Regions from separate parts of the Homo sapiens genome. Here region 1 is linked to region 2. The links come from fine-mapping of genetic effects on gene expression. A gene starts in region 2. The other region holds a variant in brackets. All regions are shown on one strand. Distances are from middle to middle. Region 1 has its middle 35 kb from the start of ANXA5. Region 2 holds the start of ANXA5 (annexin A5).

Region 1 (9,748 bases), 35 kb after region 2:
TTCAGATATGGAAACAAATCATTTGGAAATTTAGTATATGTTAAAGGTAGGTCTTAATTTGCTGGGTAAAGATAGCATTTTTTTCTAACAAATGGTGTGAAGACAGTTGGGGAGCCATCTAGGAAAATATAAGGCTTTTTCTATACCTCATGTATCAGGTAACTCTCAAAATGAAACATTTAAACTTAAAAATAAAATCATAAACATATGAGAAAGAAGCATGGAGGGATTTCATCATACCTGCACCTTCTAGATTCTCTGGGAAGCAGATGCTGAGATGGAGTTAGGGATGCAACAGGTTTATTGAATGGAACAGGTAGAAGGCAGGATTGGGCAAGGGGTGTCATCAGATTGCACTGCAGACCTGACCAAATCTTTGCCAGTATCATGTGGAACTCTGAGGCAAAGAGTTCCTGCAAAGAGCCCTTTGTGAGACAGAAGTGCCTGGGCCCTGTGCCACCACCTTCCTTACTCAATTATTGGCTAAGTGTCTTCTGGAGAAGAGCTTGGCTTGGCTGGAAAGCTGAGGCAAAACCTGAAGGAGATTAAGAGTTGGAAGGCTGTCAGCAACCCACATTTTCACAGCTTGGAACTGAGTATTTTCTTGAAAGGGGATCTAAGTGGTGCAGTTCCATGTCTGCCATAATGATCTTGAAGTGTGAGGCCTTTCTATCACCCAAAATCCAGAAGCCATAGGAGAAAAGATGATTATTTTTGATTTCCTAAAAATCAAAAACTACATGGAAGGCAGGCCAGGCACAGTGGCTCATGCCTGTAATTCCAGCACTTTGGGAGGCCAAGGTGGGTGGATTGCTTGAGCACAGGAGTTTGAGACCAGCATGGACAACATGGCAAAACCCCATTTTTATTTTTTAAAAAACCAAACAAAAAATTAGCTGGATGTGGTGGCACACGTCTCTGGTCTCAGCTATTTGGGAGACTGAGGTGAGAGAATTGTTTGAGCACAGGAGCACAAGGCTGCAGAGAGCCTGAAGGAGGGAAGGAGGAAAGGAAGGAAGGAAGGGAGGGAGGGAGGAAGGGAGGAAGGGAAGACGGGAGGGAGGGAGGAAAGGAAGGAAGGGAGGGAGGAAGGGAGGAAGGGAAGACGGGAGGGAGGGAGGGAGGGAGGGAAAATCACCACCAAGACAATTTAAATGACAAACGGGAAAACATTTACAGTTCATACAACAAAGATCTAATCTCCTTTGTACATGCTGACACACCTTGTTTTATTGTACTTTGCAAACAATTAAAAAAAAATTTTTTTAAACAAATCATAAGTTTGTGGCAACCCTGCATTGAGTCAGTGTATCAGCACCATTTTTCCAATAGCATGTGCTCACTCTTTATCTGTTTGTCACATTTTGGTAATCCTTGCAATATTTTAAGTTTTCATTATTATGTATCTTATGGTGATCTGTGATCAGTGATCTTCAATGTTACTGTCATAATTAAGGTGCTATGAACCATGCCCATTTAAGACAGTGGGCTTAATTGATAAATATGTGAGTTCTGACTGCTCCACCGACTGGCTGTTCCCTCATCTCTCTCTCTCTTTCTCTCTCTCTCTCTGATCCTTTCTATTCCCTGAGACAAAACAATATTGAAATTAGGCCAATTAATAACCCTGCAATGGCCTCTGAGTGTTCAAATGAAAGGAAGAGACTCACACATCTCTTATTTTAAATGAAAAGTTCAAAGTGATTCAGCTTAGTGAGTAAGGCAGGTCAAAAGCCAAGGCAGGCTGAAAGCTAGGCTACTGGTGCCAAACAGCCAAATTGAGAATAAATGTAAATTTTAATTTTCTTTCTTGAAGAAAATTAAAAGTGCTACTCCATTGAACACATGAATGATTAAGACAGTGAAATAGCCGTATTGCTGATATAGAGAAAGTTTGAGTAGTCTGGTTAGAAGATCAAACCAGCCACAACATTCCCTTAAGTCAAAGCCCAATCCAGAGCAAGATCCTAATTTTCAATTCCATGAAGGCTGAGAGGTGAGGAAGCTGCAGAAGAAAAGTAAGTGAGCAGTTTTGGTTCATGCGGCTTAAGGAAAGAAGCCGTCTCTGTAATAGAAAAGTGCAAATTGAAACAGCAAGTGCTGATGCAGAAGTTGCAGCTAGTTCTCCAGATGACCTAGCTAAGATAATTGATAAAGGAGGCTACACTAAACCACAGATTTTTAGTGTAAACAAACAGCCTTCTATTAGAAGATGCAATTTATAGCTAGAGAGGATACATCAATGCCTGGCTAAAGCTTCAAAGAACAGGCTGACTCTTTAGGGGCCAATGCAGCTGGTGATGTTAAGCTGAAGCCAGTGCTCATTTACCATTCCCTGGATCCTAGGGCCCTTAAAAATCATGCTAAATCTACTCTGCCTGCATTCTATAAATGGTACAACAATGGATGATAGCACATCTGTTTATAGCATGGTTTGCTGTTATTTTAAGCCCACTTTTGAGACCTGCTCAGAAAAAAAATCCTTTTCAAAATATTACTGTACATTGACAATACACCTCATCACTTAAGAGCTCTGATGGAGATTTAGGAGGAGCTGAATGTTGTTTTCATGCCTGCTAACACAACATATATTCTGCACTCCATAGATCAAGGAGTAATTTCAACCTTTAAGTCTTATTAAAAAATGTACTTTATAAGGGCATAGCTGCCATAGATAGTGATTCTTTTGATGGATCTGGGCAAAGTAAATAGAAAACATTCTGGAAAAGATTCACCATTTTAGATGCCATTGATATGGTTTGGCTTTGTGTTCCCACCCAAATCTCATGTTGAATTATGATTCTGAGTGCTGAGTGGTGTGAAGTAACTGGATCACTGGGGTGGTTTCTAATGGTTTAGTATCATCCCCTAGTGTTGTCTCATAATAGAGTTCTCACAAGATCTGGTTGTTTGCAAGTGTGTAGCACCTCTCCCGTCACTCTCTCTTCCTCCTGCTCCACCATGGTAAGATGTACTTGCTTCTCCTTTGCCTTCTGCCATGATTGTAAGTTTCCTGAGGCCTCCCAGCCATGCTTCATGTACAGCCTGTAGAACTGTGGAATCAATTCAATTTCTTTTCATAAATTACCCAGTCTTAGGCATTTCTTTATAGCAGTGTGGGAACAGATTAATACAGCCATTAAGAATATTCATGATTCATGGGCAGAGGTAAAAATATCAGCATTACCAGGAGTTTGGAAGGAATTCATTCTAAACCTCATGGATGACTTTCAGGGGCCTAGGACTTCAGTGGACGAAGTAATTGCAGACATGGTGGAAATGGCAACAGAAGTAGAAGTAGAAGTGAAGCCTGAAGATGTGACTGAATTGCTGCAATGTCATGATAAAACTTGAATGGACAAAGAGTTGCTCTTATAGATGAGCAAAGAAATTAGTTTCTTAAGATGGAAACTATTCCTGGTGAAGATGCTGTGAACATTGTTGAAACAACAACAAAGGATTTAGAATGTTCCATAAACTTAGTTGATAAAGCAGCCATAGGGTTTGAGAAGATTGACTCCAATTTTGAAAGAAGCTCTACTACTAGACACTGTGGCTTATGCTTAGCTACTCAGGAGGCTGAGGCAGGAGGACTGCTTGAGGCCAGGAGTTCAAGACCAGCCCAGGCAACATAGGGAGATCCTGTCTCTCAAAAAAGAAATGAAAAAATAATGAGCTTGGTGTGGTGGTGCATGCCTGTAGTTCCAGCTGCATGGGAGGCTGAGGCCTAAGAGTTTGAGGCTGCAGTAAGCTATGATCATGCTGCTGCCCTCCAGCCTGGGTGACAGAGCGAGAGCTTGTCTCTTAGAAAAAAAAGTCTGTTTCAGAGAAATCATTTGTTAAAAAAAGAGTCAATCAATGCGGCAAACTTCATTATTGTCTTATTCTAAGAAATTGCTGCAGTATCCCAAGCAGCAGCCATTAACGTCGAGGCAAGATCCTCCACTAGCAAAAAGACTATGGCTCGCTGAAGGCTCAGATGTTTGTTAGCATTTTTTAGCAATAAAGTAGTTTTAAATTAAGGTATATACATTTTTTAAAGGGAAAAAAACCCCAAACCAGTACTATAGTAAGAAAAAAAAAGGGCAAAAGAGATGAATAGGCAGTTCATAGAATAAGAAATATGGCCCTTAAGCATGAAAAGATGCTTGATTTAACTCATAATAAGGGAAGCGCAAATTCAGATTACACTGAGATTCCTTTTTCCACCTATCAGATTGTCAAAAATCCAAAAGTTGGAGAACATCGTTGTTGTGACGGCAAGCTACAGTGAACTAGGAATTCTCACAGATGGTCAGTAGGAATAAAAAGTGGTATAACCCCTCTGGAGGGTAGTTTGGCAATATTTACCCAATCTATAAATGTATTTACCTTCTGACCCAGCAATAGCGCTCTGTGCATTTTTCTACCCATCACCTGCATTTATGAAATGCTGTGCGTGTAAGTTTATTATTGTGACATTGTCAATTCTCCTTAAATTCAACTATACATTTAATGTGATCTCATTAAAATACCCAGAGAAAATTTTTGGAAGTTTATGTGAAAAAACAGACAAGTAAGAGTGCCAGGAGAATTCTTTCTAAAGAATTGGACTGTGATCAGGTAGCCTGATGCCTCCAGCTTTGTTCTTTTTGCTTAGGATTGTCTTGGCTATGTGGGCTCTTTTTTGGTTCCACATGAACTTTAAAGTAGTTTTTTCCAATTTTGTGAAGAAAGTCAGTGGTAGCTTGATAGGGATAGCATTGAGTCCATAAATTACCTTGGACAGTATGGCCATTTTCACGATATTGATTCTTCCTATCCATGAGCATGGAATGTTATTCCATTTGTTTGTGATCTCTTTTATTTCCTTGAGCACTGGTTTGTAGTTCTCCTTGAAGAGGTCCTTCACATCCCTTGTTAGTTGGATCAGTTGGATTCCTAGGCATTTTATTCTCTTTGTAGCAATTGTGAATGGGAGTTCACTCATGATTTGGCTCTCTGTCTGTTATTGGTGTATAAGAATGCTTGTGATTTTTGCACCTTGATTTTTTATCCTGAGACTTTGCTTAAGTTGCTTATCAGCTTAAGGAGATTTGGGGCTGATACAATGGGGTTTTCTAAATATACAATCATGTCACCTGCAAACAGAGACAAGTTGACTTCCTCTTTTCCTAATTGAATACCCTTTATTTCTTTCTCTTGCCTGATTGCCCTGGCCAGAACTTCCAACACTATGTTGAACAGGAGTGGTGAGAGAGGGCATCCTGGTCTTGTGCCAGTTTTCAAAGGGAAGGCTTCCAGTTTTGCCCATTCAGTATGATATTGGCTATGGGTTTGTCATAAATAGCTCTTATTATTTTGAGATACGTTCCATCAATACTACAAGGCTACAGTAACCAAAACAGCATGGTATTGGTACCAAAACAGAGATATAGACCAATAGACCAATGGAACAGAACAGAGGCCTCAGAAATAACACCACACATCTACAATCATCTGATCTTTGACAAGCCTGACAAGAACAAGCAATGGGGAAGGATTCTTTATTTAATATTTAATAAATGGTGCTGGGAAAACTGGCTAGCCATATGTAGAAAGCTGAAACTGTATCCCTTCCTTACACCTTATGCAAAAATTAACTCAAGATGGATTAAAGACTTAAATGTAAGACCTAAAACCATAAAAACCCTAGAAGAAAACCTAGGCAATACCATTCAGGACATAGGCATGGGCAAAGACTTCATGACTAAAACAGCAAAAGCAATGGCAACAAAAGCCAAAATAGACAAATGGGATCTAATTAAACTAAAGAGCTTCTGCACAGCAAAAGAAACTATCATCAGAGTGAACAGGCAGCCTATGGAATGGGAGAAAATTTTTGCAATCTACCCATCTGACAAAGGGCTAATATCCAGAATCTAGAAAGAACTTAAACAAATATAGAAGAAAAAAACAACCCCATCAAAAAGCGAGCAAAGGATATGAACAAACACTTCTCAGAAGAAGACATTTATGCAGCCAACAGACCTATGAAAAAAAGCTCATCATCACTGGT[C/T]ATCAGAGAAATGCAAATCAAAACCACAATGAGATACCATCTGACGCAGGAAACGACACATGCTGGAGAGGATGTGGAGAAATAGGAATGCTTTTACACTGTTGGTGGGAGTGTAAATTAGTTCAACCATTGTGGAAGACAGTGTGGCGTTTCCTCAAGGATCTAGAACTAGAAATACCATTTGACCCAGCCATCCCATTACTGGGTATATACCCAAAGTATTATAAATCATGCTACTATAAAGACACATGCACACGTATGTTTATTGTGGCACTATTCACAATAGCAAAGTCTTAGAACCAACCCAAATGTTCACCAATGATAGACTGGATTAAGAAAACGTGGCACACATACACCATGGAATACTATGCAGCCATAGAAAAGGACGAGTTCATGTCCTTTGCAGGGACATGGATGAAGCTGGAAACCATCATTCTCAGCAAACTATCACAAGGACAGAAAACCAAACACCACATGTTCTTACTCATAGGTGGGAGTTGAACGATGAGAACACATGGACACAGGGCAGAGAACATCACACACCAGGGCCTGTCGTGGGGTGGGGAAGCGGGGAGGGATAGCATTAGGAGAAATACCTAATGTAAATGACGAGTTGACGGATGCAGCAAACCAACATGGCACATGTATACCCATGTAACAAACCTGCACGTTGTGCACATGTACCCTAGAACTTAAAGTATAATTAAATAAAAAATTAAAAAAAAAGAATTGGACTGTGATAAGGGGCTAGAATGACCAGATACTAAAACAAAAATTACAACTGTTGTAACATTTTTTAGAGGCCCCCCAAATGTTTTAAAAACGTAAATCCATTATTGCTACCATTATCTTCTCATACGCAAATGATTCAAAGTACATTCATTATATTTCCCACAGACAAATATGTCTTCCTGATTTTTCTATTTTTGGTAGTGGCTCTAAAATGAAGTGTAGTACTCATACAGTAGGCAGACAGACCAATTAAATAGAATAAAAATGACAGAAATAGGCCTCAATACAGATAGAAACGTAGTATAAAGCATCATTTTAAGTCAAAAGAGAAAATATAACTATTAAATAAATAGTGCCAGGACCCACTCTTTTGGATAGACATCTCAAAAAACTAAAACTGGATCCATAACTCCCAGCTCAGGATGATCAATGATTTAAATATAAAAAGAAGAAATCATACAAATATTAAAATTAACTCTATTATCTGACTTTGGAACAAGTGTTAATATGTTATAAAATCTAGTAGCCATAAATGACAAAAAGACTGATTAAATTCAACTAATAAACCTTAAACTTTTAGAATTGAAAGTTAAAGATTTATGAATGGTCAAAGGCACAATAGGCAAGTTTAAAAGAAAAACAATCACCTACAGAAAAATATTTGCAACTCATAGGTGTAGTTTCCCTAATACATATTGAGGTCCTTCATATTGAAAGGAAAGGATCAATAACTCATGAGAAATGAAGGCCAATGACATGAAAAGGTCATTTACAGAGCAGGCAATACAAGTTATCAGTCAACAATTGGAAAGATGTTTAATCTCGTTCATAATAAAAATAATGCAAGATAAAACTATGGTGAGGTACAATGTTTCAATGAGCAGATTAGCCAAGACAAAAATAATTGTTGATAAAGGCCTTCTCAATCAGCTGCTCTTATAACTGGATGGTGCCATTGTGAATTGTTCTATCCTCTTTGGAGGGCATCTGGCATTATAGATCACATTTATAAATATATATATACTCTTTGATTCAACAGTTGTATTTCTAGAAGTTGTCTTATGATACCACTGATGTGCAGTAACATGGGCATAAGGCTATGCATTGTAGCATTTCTTCTAATAACAAAATATGGAAACATTTTAAAAGCCTGTTAATAGGGGGCTGGGTAAAGTAATGATGGTACATTTGTACAATGGATACAGCACAGCCACAAAGAGTAAGAAAGCTTCCTCTGTTCTGATGTGGAAAAATACTGAGAATTAAGGAATATTGTTAAATGAAGATATTGAGATGTAGAATAATGGTCACAATATGGTTACCCTTTGTGTAAAAAAAGGAAAAATAAGAATTCATGTATGCATTTGCTGTGCAAGAATAGAATACTTTTGAAGGATACATGAGAAACTAGTAATAATGATTGTGTGTGCAGAAGAAAACTGGGTAGATGAGGGACAGGGAAAAGAGGGAGATATTTCACTGTATACCTTTTAAATCTTTTGATTGTTGAATCAGGTGAATATGTATTTTAAAACATTACCCTAAAATAAATACATAAAATCTTTGATAATTCATAATGGAAAAACATGAAGAGGAACATAATGAAAGTTTCTAAAACACTTTCCTTGTAAACCACATGAGTGTGGGGGAACATGATGGCTATTGCTCAGCTCAGTCTCTGCTTGATTTGAGATTGCGCAATTCTGCAAAGCTCAGGTATTACCAATTCAGGATAATCTTGAAGTTAGCAAATGGCCAGCCCAGTTTCAAGTTAAGTCCAGTTTCAACTTACTTGCTTTTTTATTTTTTTAGAGTTAGGTATATTGAAGCTGAGTTTACATTCAGTAAAATTCATCTTTTTTAGGTGTACAGTGTCTTGAATGTTGTCAAATGCATGCAATTATGAAACCATCACAACAATTAAGTTATAGGATATTATCATTACCCCCATCTTCTCCCCCAAAAGTCTTCTAAAACCCTCTCATAGTCAATCCTTTTTGCCTACTCCCAAACTCAGGTAATTACTAACCTGGTTTCAGTTTCTATTGTTTTTTTTTTTCTCCCAGGATGTCATATAAATGGAATCACACAGTATAGCATTTTGAGTATGAATTCTTTCTTTTTTTTTTATTTTTTACTTTTTGAGACGGAGTCTTGCTCTGTCACCCAGGCTGGAGTACAGTGGCGTGATCTTGGCTCACTGTAACCTCCGCTTCCTGAATTCAACTGATTCTCCTGCCTTAGCCTCCTGAGTAGCTAGGATTACAGACACCCCCCACACCTGGCTAATTTTTGTATTTTCAGTAGAGACGGGGTTTCGTCATGTTGGCCAGGCTGGTCTCAAACTCCTAACTTCAGGTGATCCACTGGCCTTGGCCTCCCAAAGTGATGGGATTACAGGCATGAGCCACTGCGTCCAGCTGAGTCTGAATTCTTTCAAAGAGCATAATGCATTTGAGATACAACCTTCTTATAGTGTGTATCAGTAATTAGTTTGTCCTTGTTTTCTGAATAATATTCTGTTTTATGGATATAACACAGTACATTTATTCATTCATCAGGTGGTAGACATCAGTGTTGTTTCTAGTTCTGAGTGATCATGAATAAAATCACTATAAAGATTCATGTACAATATTTATGTGGATATATGCTATTTCTCTTGGATAAATAAGAATGGGATCGCTGGGTTATATGGTAAGTCTATGTGTAACTGTATAAAAACTGTTTCTCACAATAATGGAACCATTTTTCTTCCTACAGCAATGTGTGTGTGTGTGTGCATTTATACATATACATAAATTTTCATATATGAATATCAAATATATATACCTACCACAAACACAGTGGCTTAAAATATCACAAATGATTATCTTATAGTTCTGGAAGTCAGAAGTCCAAAATTAGTATCACTGGACTAAAGTAAAGGTGTGGGCAGGGCCGTGTCCCTTTCTGTGGGCTCTCAGGACCATCTATTTTCCT
Region 2 (10,193 bases):
TAGCATGAAGGCCCTCACCAGACGCTGGTGCCATGCTCTTGGACTTCCCAGTCTCCAGAACTGTGAGCCAAATAAACTTCTGTTCTTTATAAATTACCCAGTGTGTGGTATTTTTATTGCAACAGAAAAGGGACTAAGAGTGCCTTTAAAAAAGAGACCCCAGAGAGCTAGCTAGTCTCTTCTGCCATGTGAGGTTACAGTAAAGATGGCTGTCTATGAGGAAGCAAGCCCTCACCTGACCCCAAATCTGTGGAACCTTGTTCTTGCACTTTCCAGGCTTCAGACTGTGATAAACACATTTCTGTTGTTTATAAGCTACTCACTTCATGCAATTTTGTTATGGCAGCCTGAACACACTGAGAGACCTATTTTCTCCAGAGACACTACAACCACTTTAAACCTAAAGAGCAAGAATGGGGAGCCACTAGAATAAAGCTACATTCCAGTATCACTGCTGGGATGTAGAGATGATGGTGGAAAAAGACTTGACAGAGCCCACTGAGGAAGGCAGCCCCACCTCTAATCTCACCCTGGGACTTTAAGACATGAATGAGTTGAGGGCAGATAGGTGACTTGAATTAAATTCCAGGTGACGGTTTTACAGTTGTTGGCACCAGCAGATGGGGATCAGAGGGCCCACGTGTGGAGAGAAGGGTAGAGGGTGGGGGTCTAGGCTAGTTGTATGTTGATAGGGGCCATCGATGGTAGACTCTGGATGAGGCAGAATAGGCGGGAAGAAGGGGGAATGGCACCAGGAAGCATCAGGTTGGCCCCCAAGAGTTGGACCTGCCGTCTCTGAGAGACTGGCTGGCAATAGGTCCTGCTGCAGTGGAGCAGTGGGTCCAGAGGAGGTTATTTTTGCTTTTAATATGAAGGTGGGTCCTTAATCATCAGAACAGGAACTGAGAATGATGGTTAGTGTTTCTGAAAGAAAAAAGAGCCATGGGGGAATGGAATCAACCCTTTTTCACAATTTGTTAGGCAGTTTCACAAATTAACTTATTTGAAACTAGCCTCCACTCTAGATAAGGAAGCCAAGGATCAGAGAAATCACATAATTTGTCCAAGTCACATCCCTGGTATGCAGGCAGAGTAGGGATTTGAACTCAACTGTCTCTGTCTTCAGAGAGTGTGCTTTTTCCAGATCTTGCCTGGAAGACATGATGTTCCTCCTTTCCCTTTGTATCTAGCCCCTACTTTACTCCTCAGCCACTCTCTCGTTTCTTCTGCTTCATGCAATTCATTCTCCTGCCATCTTTTCTTCTTCTTTAACTTGCCATAATTTGCAATAGATATATTTATTAAACAAAATCAATTTTTAAAGTAGACTGGTTGAAAATGTTATAATTTTCTAAAAAACAAGATTCCAATTCCTCTAAAACTAAAGAAGAGTTGTTTTGTACTTATTTATAAAAAGCCTGTAACTCATTTTCTTTTCTTTATGTGTCATTATAATCAAGGGAAACAGTAGGGCCATGAATATATGATCAAAATATTAGAGTTGAGAGATGTAGAAACTGAAACACAAAGAAGCTCAGCGACTTATTTAGAATAAATTGGCTAGTTCCTGAATGATCCAAATAATTGAGAGAAATAGGGAAAATCCTGAGTTAACAAATAAATACAGTTTCAAAAGTGTGTTTGTAAATTAGTTCTCTGGCATTTGGTATATTTCTCTAATAAAAAGAAAATTGATGTGACCTGAGTGTCTCATAGAAAACAGCTGAAACTCATTATTTATATCTAAGAATAGTATAAAAAACTCCCCACAATTATTATGTAGTACTTATAATGAACACAACACAAAGACAATACACTGAGAAAGAAGGACTTTAATTTTTAAATGTGTAAGAAGAGAAAATTTAATTAGAAAGATGAAAGACTTAACTGGCGAATCCGGCAGAGATTCTAAAGATGACATTTGGACACTGATAAAGGCCATTGGGGGATGAATGACAGACACTTGTTTTTAAGAGTGTGAAAGCTGTCCTTATCAAAATGGAGTCAATTGTGTTAAAAAACGAGACAAATCCCTGACAAATGGCTGGGGAAGGCCATGAAGGGAGGGTTCTAATACATAAATGCCTGATAACAAGAACTATTGAAAAATACTGCAAAAACCACAACTTTGGACAAAGGCCATTGCAACCACACACACACACACACACACACACACACACACACACAGAGAGAGAGAGAGAGAGAGAGAGAGAGAGAGAGAAAATGAGAACTTCTGCGGAGACATCTGCCCAGCAACTGCCTGTACAACATTAGACTGGTGCCACTCTAGTTATTGATTACTGTAGCCAAGGATAATTATCTCAAAAACAATGATGTAATCTTCCTTCTTCCTTGAAAAACCTTTGCCTTCCTTTACCTCCCTGAATACGCAAAATAGTTTAATATGGCACACATATTCCCATTGCAATGCCCATTCCCAAATAAACATCATTTTCTTTTAGAAAGTCTCCCTCTCTGTTTGTTATTAGGCTGACAAGAGGTAGTGAAAGAGATTTCCTGAGTGCCTATCATTTATATCACTCAGTAGTTAAGAACATCAGTTGTTCAAAATCCATCAATTAAATACACAATTCAAAGCAGAATCTTTATGTGGCAATCTCTCTTTATTCTAAATAAGTCGCTGAGCTTCTTTGTGTTTTAGTTTCTACATCTCTCAACTCTAATATTGTACCTTCCACTCCAGCCATTTTAGACAGTTCAAATCACACAGACACAAAGAGATACTTTCCTTCTCTTGGTTTTGCAGTTCACTTAACCAGACCACCCTTTCTCCCCTTCATAGTTTGATAAAATATCCTCTCTCAAAAGCCTAATCCAAATGCTATGTCAACCATCTGACAAAATATTAGCTCCTTCCTCTGAAACTAATTGCATTTTGATTGCATTCTAGGCATTTCTTTCCTGATTTATAGTCTCTCATTGTAGTGTTCATATACATGCTTTATCTATAATATTAAGGTGCAAACTCTTAGGTATGGCCTTTCCACAGGTGCTCAGTGTATAGTTGTCAAATACAATTAAATTGTATCAATTTAGGTTTCTGTTCAAGGCTTCTCAGAAATGGCTTCATATCACCTTTGCAAAATAAGTGTTCCCTTCATTTCCATTCCCTAGCCTTTATTTTCTTTATACCACGCATCACACAGGACATATTAGATACTTGTTTATTGTTTGTTTCCTCCACCAGAATGTATGACCTATGAGGGCAAGGCCTTTGTTTCACTTGCCGTGTTTACCCCAGCACCTAGATCTGTGCCTGGTCCAGAGTAGGAGTTGAATAAACTGATATTACTGGAAGTGAAAGAAATGCTACCTGGAGTATTTCAAGACTCTGAGTCCAATAACTCATCGATTTTGTCAGTATTTAGCTGCAGGACATAGAGCAAGTCACTAACCCATGATGAGTCTCATGTCCCTGTAAAATCAATGATTGTTAAATACAGGATCTCTGAGGTCCTGTTTAACTCCATTAATGTGAGAGTAGAAAGTGAGAGAAGCAAACTGAGTTCAAGTGGATATGGGTGAGAAAAAAGAATGCTCTAGGCAAGACTACAGGTCCTGCTTTTGGTGCAGGGCAGAGAGAAAGTAGAAAAGCTGGAGCAACGGAGACAGATGCTCAGAAAAGGGCTGCCTTCAGATATATTAATACCTGTAAAGAAAACCCGGGGGAGGTGCTGACTTGGGGAGAGCCTGAGGCTGAGTAGACAGCTGGGCTGGTGGAGAGGAGGCTCCCAGAGGAAAGGCAACCCGCCAGTGGGGTGGGGGTGATGGGGTTGGCAAGCTCCACAAATTTTGCAATTTTGCCTCCTTTCCCAGAGAACAACCACTCTGTTGTGACTTTGTCAGGGCTGGAATAGGCATGTGGTTCACACGTGAAAGCGAATGAGAAGTTCTATACAAAGAACCACATTTGCTGTCCATTTAATTTATTCTTCCTCATTCTCAAAGAAGACTAGATCCTCATCTCTTACCCTTAACCTCCACGTTGAGAAGCACTTTGCCCTTCCCATTCTAGCATATGTCTAGAACACTGCATCTAGTGTCGCAAACTTGTCCTCTTGCCCCCTCTGCCCTGGCACCTTCCCTCCCCACACCAGTAAGTCTGAGAAGGTCCCTGTGTCTTCTACTTTTCCTTTTCCAGCATATGGAGACAAAAGTGATTATATCCCGGATGCTAATCCGCCATGTTGACCTTTAATAACCCCAGTCCCATGAATACCTCCTGATTCCTAGGATTTTTTTTTTAAACTGTCCTTAGCATAAGAACATGTCAACCTTGATGCTATTGCCCACATTGTAGGCTATGAAGCATACGGCATTCTCACCTGTTCCGGAGGGCTGCCTTTAATTGTCTTGCACAGAGCAGTATACTCTTTCCTTACGGTATATAAGGCCAGGGTCTGGGGAGTAACAGTGCAGAAATTTATCTGCTTGCCGCCGCCCAAGGCCACGCTTCTGTCTACCACATCCTCCAATAGCACCCCTATTACCTACAGACTGGATTTGTCTGTCTCGTTCTTTGGTTTCTTGACTCCTTCGCGTTTGGGGGCTGCTTTGCATATAAAGCCCTTTCACAGAACACAGCACCATGCTAGTACAATACGCTGTAGATTCTCCCTCCCTCCCCCTCTCTCTCATATACTCATATATTTTATGTTGAACCAATATGAGGCATTGCTCAAATTTAAGTCATATTAAAGTTCTAGGCTAGTTTTGAAAACAGAAACTGATTGGAAGCAGAGGTTTTCAAATAGCCCACATACGCTACTAGAAGGCTGTACATTTAAGAGAGGGCCATCTAGGAAGCAATAATAGGCATTAAAACAACAACAAAACAACAAAACAAAACAGAAACAAAAACAACTTGGGAAACGGCCCTCCTTTCACGTTTTTTCTATCCCATCGACAAAGGCGCGCTGTCCTTAGCTGCGATGATTTTGTCTCGCCTCCAAAAAGACGCCCACGCACTATGTTGAGCACCCAAGTGAGGCTACGGTTCCTGCGGTCACAGAGGGCAGGGAGGCTCAAGCACCTCCAAAACCCCGAGCCCTGGACAGCTCCCCAGGCCCTTCCCGCGGCGCGAGGACAAGAGGTCTCCGGGGCCCTCGGGGGAGCGGCGCCTCCTCCTGGTTCCAGCAGCTCTGCGGCCGCTCCCCACCCAGGCCCGCGAGACCAGCGGGACAGTCCGCGCCGCGGGAGACCAACTGGGACGAGCCGCGACCCACGCAGGCGCGCTGAGGCCGGGGCAGGGGCGGGCCCGGCTGGCGCGGCCGGCCTGCGGTTGGGGCCCTGGCGGGGGTGGGACGGGCCAAGCCGGGCAGGGCCGGGGTGGGGCCGCTGGCGTTTCCGTTGCTTGGATCAGTCTAGGTGCAGCTGCCGGATCCTTCAGCGTCTGCATCTCGGCGTCGCCCCGCGTACCGTCGCCCGGCTCTCCGCCGCTCTCCCGGGGTTTCGGGGCACTTGGGTCCCACAGTCTGGGTGAGTGGTCGCAGCCCGGGGAGGGGGCTCCTTCTGGAGAGGAGAGCGTGGTCGCGGGGCACTGGATTCGCGCGGACGCTCGGCCGAGAGCTGTCCCGGTAGCTGCGAGAGGGCGGGTCGGCCCCGTGGCGGGGCCCTCCGGGCTGTCTGAGCGCCGCCGGGTCCCCGCGGACCTGCGCTTGGGGAGGGCACGAGTTGCAAATGGCGCGCTAAGCCCGAGGTTTCTTCTCTTTTGCAGTCCTGCTTCACCTTCCCCTGACCTGAGTAGTCGCCATGGCACAGGTAAGGCCGTGCGCCCCCCACTGCGCTGGATTTACCCACAACTTTGTATGCTGCGACGAGGGACTTTTAGGATTTGTCTGAGAGCCAAAAAGTTTAGGAGGAAAGGGAACCTGCTTTGGGGACATCGCTTCCACTTTTCTTGTTCCCCCTTTGCTTCCCTGCCCCCGTTTCTGTGTCCCGGTTCTTCCCGCTGAGCGCCCTCCGGAACCAGCACCGACGCCGCCAAGCTGCCTTCGCGCGCAACAGCTGGTGACGTGGCCGGATTTGTGTGCGCTCCCTTTTCATGAGTGAATGTGTAAAAGTGGGCCTTCCCCAAAATCCAGAGAGTAGCTCAAATTAGAACCGGAGCAAGAACAGCTCATCGTGGTCATGTGAGGCGAACGCATTCCCCCCCCACCCCGCCCCCCGACTTCCTTTATTTTTTTTCCGCAAAGTTTTCTGTATTTTAATACTGTGATTGAGCATTGGCTTTTTCCAGTTGCTCAGCCCAGTTTTACTAAAACTGTAGGACGTAGGCTCTGATTTTTTTTTTAATCCAAAAGATTAAACACAAGCGCTGTTTTTCTTAAGCAATGAACTCGTGGAACGAGTTCTCAATTGAATTTGCCTTGGGACTGTTTCAGAAATTGATAATCTACTACAGGCTTTCTTTACTGTTTTTTTTTTTTCCTTTTTTTTTGAGACGGAGTCTCACTCTGTCGCCCAGGCTGGAGTCCAGTGACGTAGTGATCTCGCTCACTACAACCTCTGCCTCCCGGGTTCAAGCAATTCTCGTGTCTCAGCTTTCCAAGTAGCTGGGATTACAGGCGCCCCACCATGCCCAGCTAATTTTGTATTTTTAGTAGAGGCGGGGTTTCACCATGTTGGCCAGGCTGGTCTCAAACTCCTTGCCTCAAGTGATCCTCCCGCCTCGGCCTCAGGACTGTAATCCCACTGCGCCTGGTTTCTTTACTGTTATTAATGTTTATCAAAAATGTAGGAAAGAGAAGATAGTTTAAGGTCTTTAAATATTGACCATGTTATACAGTCTTTTGTGAATAAGATACCAGGGCTTAAAAACTCTAAAACTGATTTCACAGATCTTGTCAATCTAACCGGCTTGTCAGAGTCCAGATAGTTTTTTTTAAACAAGTGTTTTAACTGCTAAAACAATGCTGTCTCTTATTTATAGTTCACTTTTTATCAGATTGACTTATCAAAATTGAAAAAGGTTTCTTGGTCCTTTCCAAGTGAAAATGGGAGGATTAAGATTAGTTGATTACTTTATGAAACTTACACAGTGATCCCATTCTTACCTCCTCTTTTGCACTTAAATGTTACAGTAAACCAATTCTCATATTACTTCAAGTGGAAAGTTTGGTTTAAGTTCTTCTCCATAGAAAGGATACTTTTATGTGGAATTAACTTTCCTGAGTAATATTTTTCCTATCTTGATATGCTGGTGTGGTGATGTACATGAAGATTTAACAAGCATCGAATAATAATTCCCTCTATCTTTGCTCATTTAGCAGTTTCTTGAATCTCTTGTAAGTTCCCCAGTGATGTCTGAGGGTCCATCAATTCCTTTTCATTATGTAGACTGTTTACCCAAATAGTATAAGCGAACATATTTTCCAGTTGTGGACATTAATTTTAATAATTTCAAAGAATGATTAGTATCATAAAGGCCATGTGTATAGAAAACCTAGGAGAATGGTGGTTTGCATATAAAATTATGTACCTGAGCCCTATGACAATATAACACCAAGACTGTTTTCTATCAAAACTACAGTTTTTACTAATCATAAAAGTTACAAGTAATGTTTTAAAAAAGATACAGAGTGTTAAATTTTGTTCTAGTTTTGTTACTATTTTTGGAAATCATGAAAGTAAAACATTTTGTTAAAATATTTAGTATTGGCCAGGCATGGTGGCTCATGCCTGTAATCCTAGCACTTTGGGAGGCTGAGGCACGTGGATCACGAGGTCAGGAGTTCGAGACCAGCCTAACCAACATGGTGAGACCTCGTCTCTTCTAAAAATACAAAAATTAGCTGGGCATGGTGGTGCACAACTGTAATCCCAGCTACTCGGGAGGCTGAGGCAGGAGAATCACTTGAACCCGGGAGGCGGAGGTTGCAGTGAGCTGAGATCGCGCTGCTGCACTCCAGCCTGGGCAACAGTGAGACTACGTCTCAAAAAAAAAGTTTAGTATTAAAGTTGGGTGCGGCGTCTGAGCAGTAAGAATGTCATGAAGGCAAAACTAGGCTACGTAATTGTTCATTAGAAGCTTCATGAACATCAGAATTTTTTTGTTTATTTTTTATTTATTTTTTATTATATATATATTTTTATTATACTTTAAGTTCTAGGGTATGTGTGCACAACATGCAGGTTTGTTACATATGTATACATGGTGCCATGTTGGTGTGCTGCACCCATTAACTCAATATTTACATTAGCTGTATCTCCTAATGCTATCCCTCCCCCCTCCCCCCCGCCCACAATAGGCCCCGGTGTGGGTGTGTGATGTTCCCCTTTCTGTGTCCAAGTGTTCTCATGAACATCAGAATTATCTCTATGGTATATGTTTAAGTTACAAGGTTTGATCAGAAATATTTTCGGTTGGTTTAAAATTATTATAATAATTTAAAAAAGCCCTGTGCCGAGCAAGCAGGATAAATGTAAATAAATAAATTTGAGATGAAACTCCTTCCAGAGGAGCTGACTGGATATTGATTGCATCTTTTCATGCCATTCATTTTTTAAAGTCAAGTCTCTCTGGAGCTAATGTTCACTTTTGGGATCTTAGATCAGGGTTACCTGTTTACCCGTGGCCTGTGCTGCTCCTGGTGATTTCTCTTGGTTCCTTATCTGTTTAACTCTTAAGTTCATTTTGGCTGCTGAGAAAGAACTAGATCAAAAACTACTTGGCTGCTTTGCAAGCCACTGAGCAATTCATTGGCATTCAGCAAACCCTGATTTCCTTATCTAATATCCAGTTCTCCTTGGAAGGCCTACATAGGTGATCAGGCTAGTTACAGGCAGGCAGTCCGGCTTTCTTCTTTTAATGACTTAGAAGTTCAAAATGGTAAAAATATAACAGTGCTTTTACAGCATAGATTCATTCCTGAAATACATTTTATTCATATAACCTTCATACTATTCTAAAATTTCACAAATGCATCTGTTTTTTAAAAATTAGGGCTCCTAAGACCTTTGCTTTAAGTGCTTCTTAGACGCAGTCTTTCAGTTTAGTTAGTTTACATAATATGTAAACATATCATCAATTGATTAATTGCAAGGAATTATACTCCTGGCTTCATTTCTTTGGACACTAGTTTTTTGGGTTTTTTTTTTTCTCCCCCGAGATGGAGTCTCGCTTTGTTGTCCAGGCTGGAGTGCCGTGGCGTGATCTCAGCTCACTGCAACCTCTGCTTCCTGGGTTCAACTGATTCTCTTCCCTCAGCCTCCGGAGTAGCTGGGATTAGAGGCATGTGCCACCACGCCTGGCTAATTTTTGTATTTTTAGTAGAGACGGAGTTTCGCCATGTTGGCCAGGCTAGTCTCGAACTCCTAACCTCAAGTGATCCGTGTGCCTCGGCCTCCCAAAGTGCTGGGATTACAGGCATGAGCCACTGCGCCTGGTGGGACACTAGTTCTTAACTGTTCTCTTTTTCATCCATGCATGCATTCATGAATGCATGAGGCTTTTGCATTTTCACTATGTGCCAAGTATTGTTAAACATGAGCGCAATGGGAAATGGATCTAAGATTTATTGATATAATAGATGCATTGCCAAGTCTTTTGTGTGCATTATTTAGTCCTCATAACACAGTTTTGGAAATAGGTATTACTATTTTTGTTTCACAGAAGGGGAAATTGAGGTTACTTAGCTGGCATTCTTTGTATGGGACAAAGGAGGGAAGCCATCATACAGAGAGGTAACAACAGCAAATAAATACTTAGGGGTGTAAAAGAGTTTGGCATGATGGAGTGAAACTGCAGTGAGGTGGGGAAATCAAGCCTTGTCTTGGAAGGGATAGAACTTTTCAAGTGTTATTCATGGAATGCCCAATGGAACAATTTGGTAAAAGAGCATACTCTCCTCTGACCTTCAATGTGAACTCATGGGAGGCCAATGCCACCTGCTCACTTTAACTCACTCAAGACATCACTGGAGTTATTCTTGGGCAACTTGAGCACACAATTTAACTTTCCATTTTATTGGTGTTTGTCAAGGGAAGTCATTCTTACACTGGTAAAGAGACACAACATTAAACACAGAGCATTAAAGAAATACACAACAAAAATTTAAATCATTTTACAAATCTTCACTTTGTTATCAAAACCTTCTTTTCTACCACGATGCAAACAACTTAGTCTGTTCTCCAGTGATGTTTTTTTTCCCTTGCATTTGATTTTAAGAAAC

What was found.
Region 1: its variant is fine-mapped to the expression of ANXA5 in blood mononuclear cells (TOPMed, PIP above 0.99).

What each region holds. Positions count from the first base shown.
Region 1 is chr4:121,657,038-121,666,785 of GRCh38, reverse strand. No RefSeq gene overlaps it. Among named protein-coding and RNA genes, the nearest start is that of ANXA5, 35 kb to the left of the region's middle. The variant C/T (reference allele first, on the strand shown) is at 6,038.
Region 2 is chr4:121,692,169-121,702,361 of GRCh38, reverse strand. It overlaps ANXA5 (annexin A5), which reads left to right and starts at 5,382. Exons shown (of 13, transcript NM_001154.4): 1 at 5,382-5,499; 2 at 5,738-5,781. The coding sequence starts at 5,773. RefSeq lists a silencer at 5,014-5,433.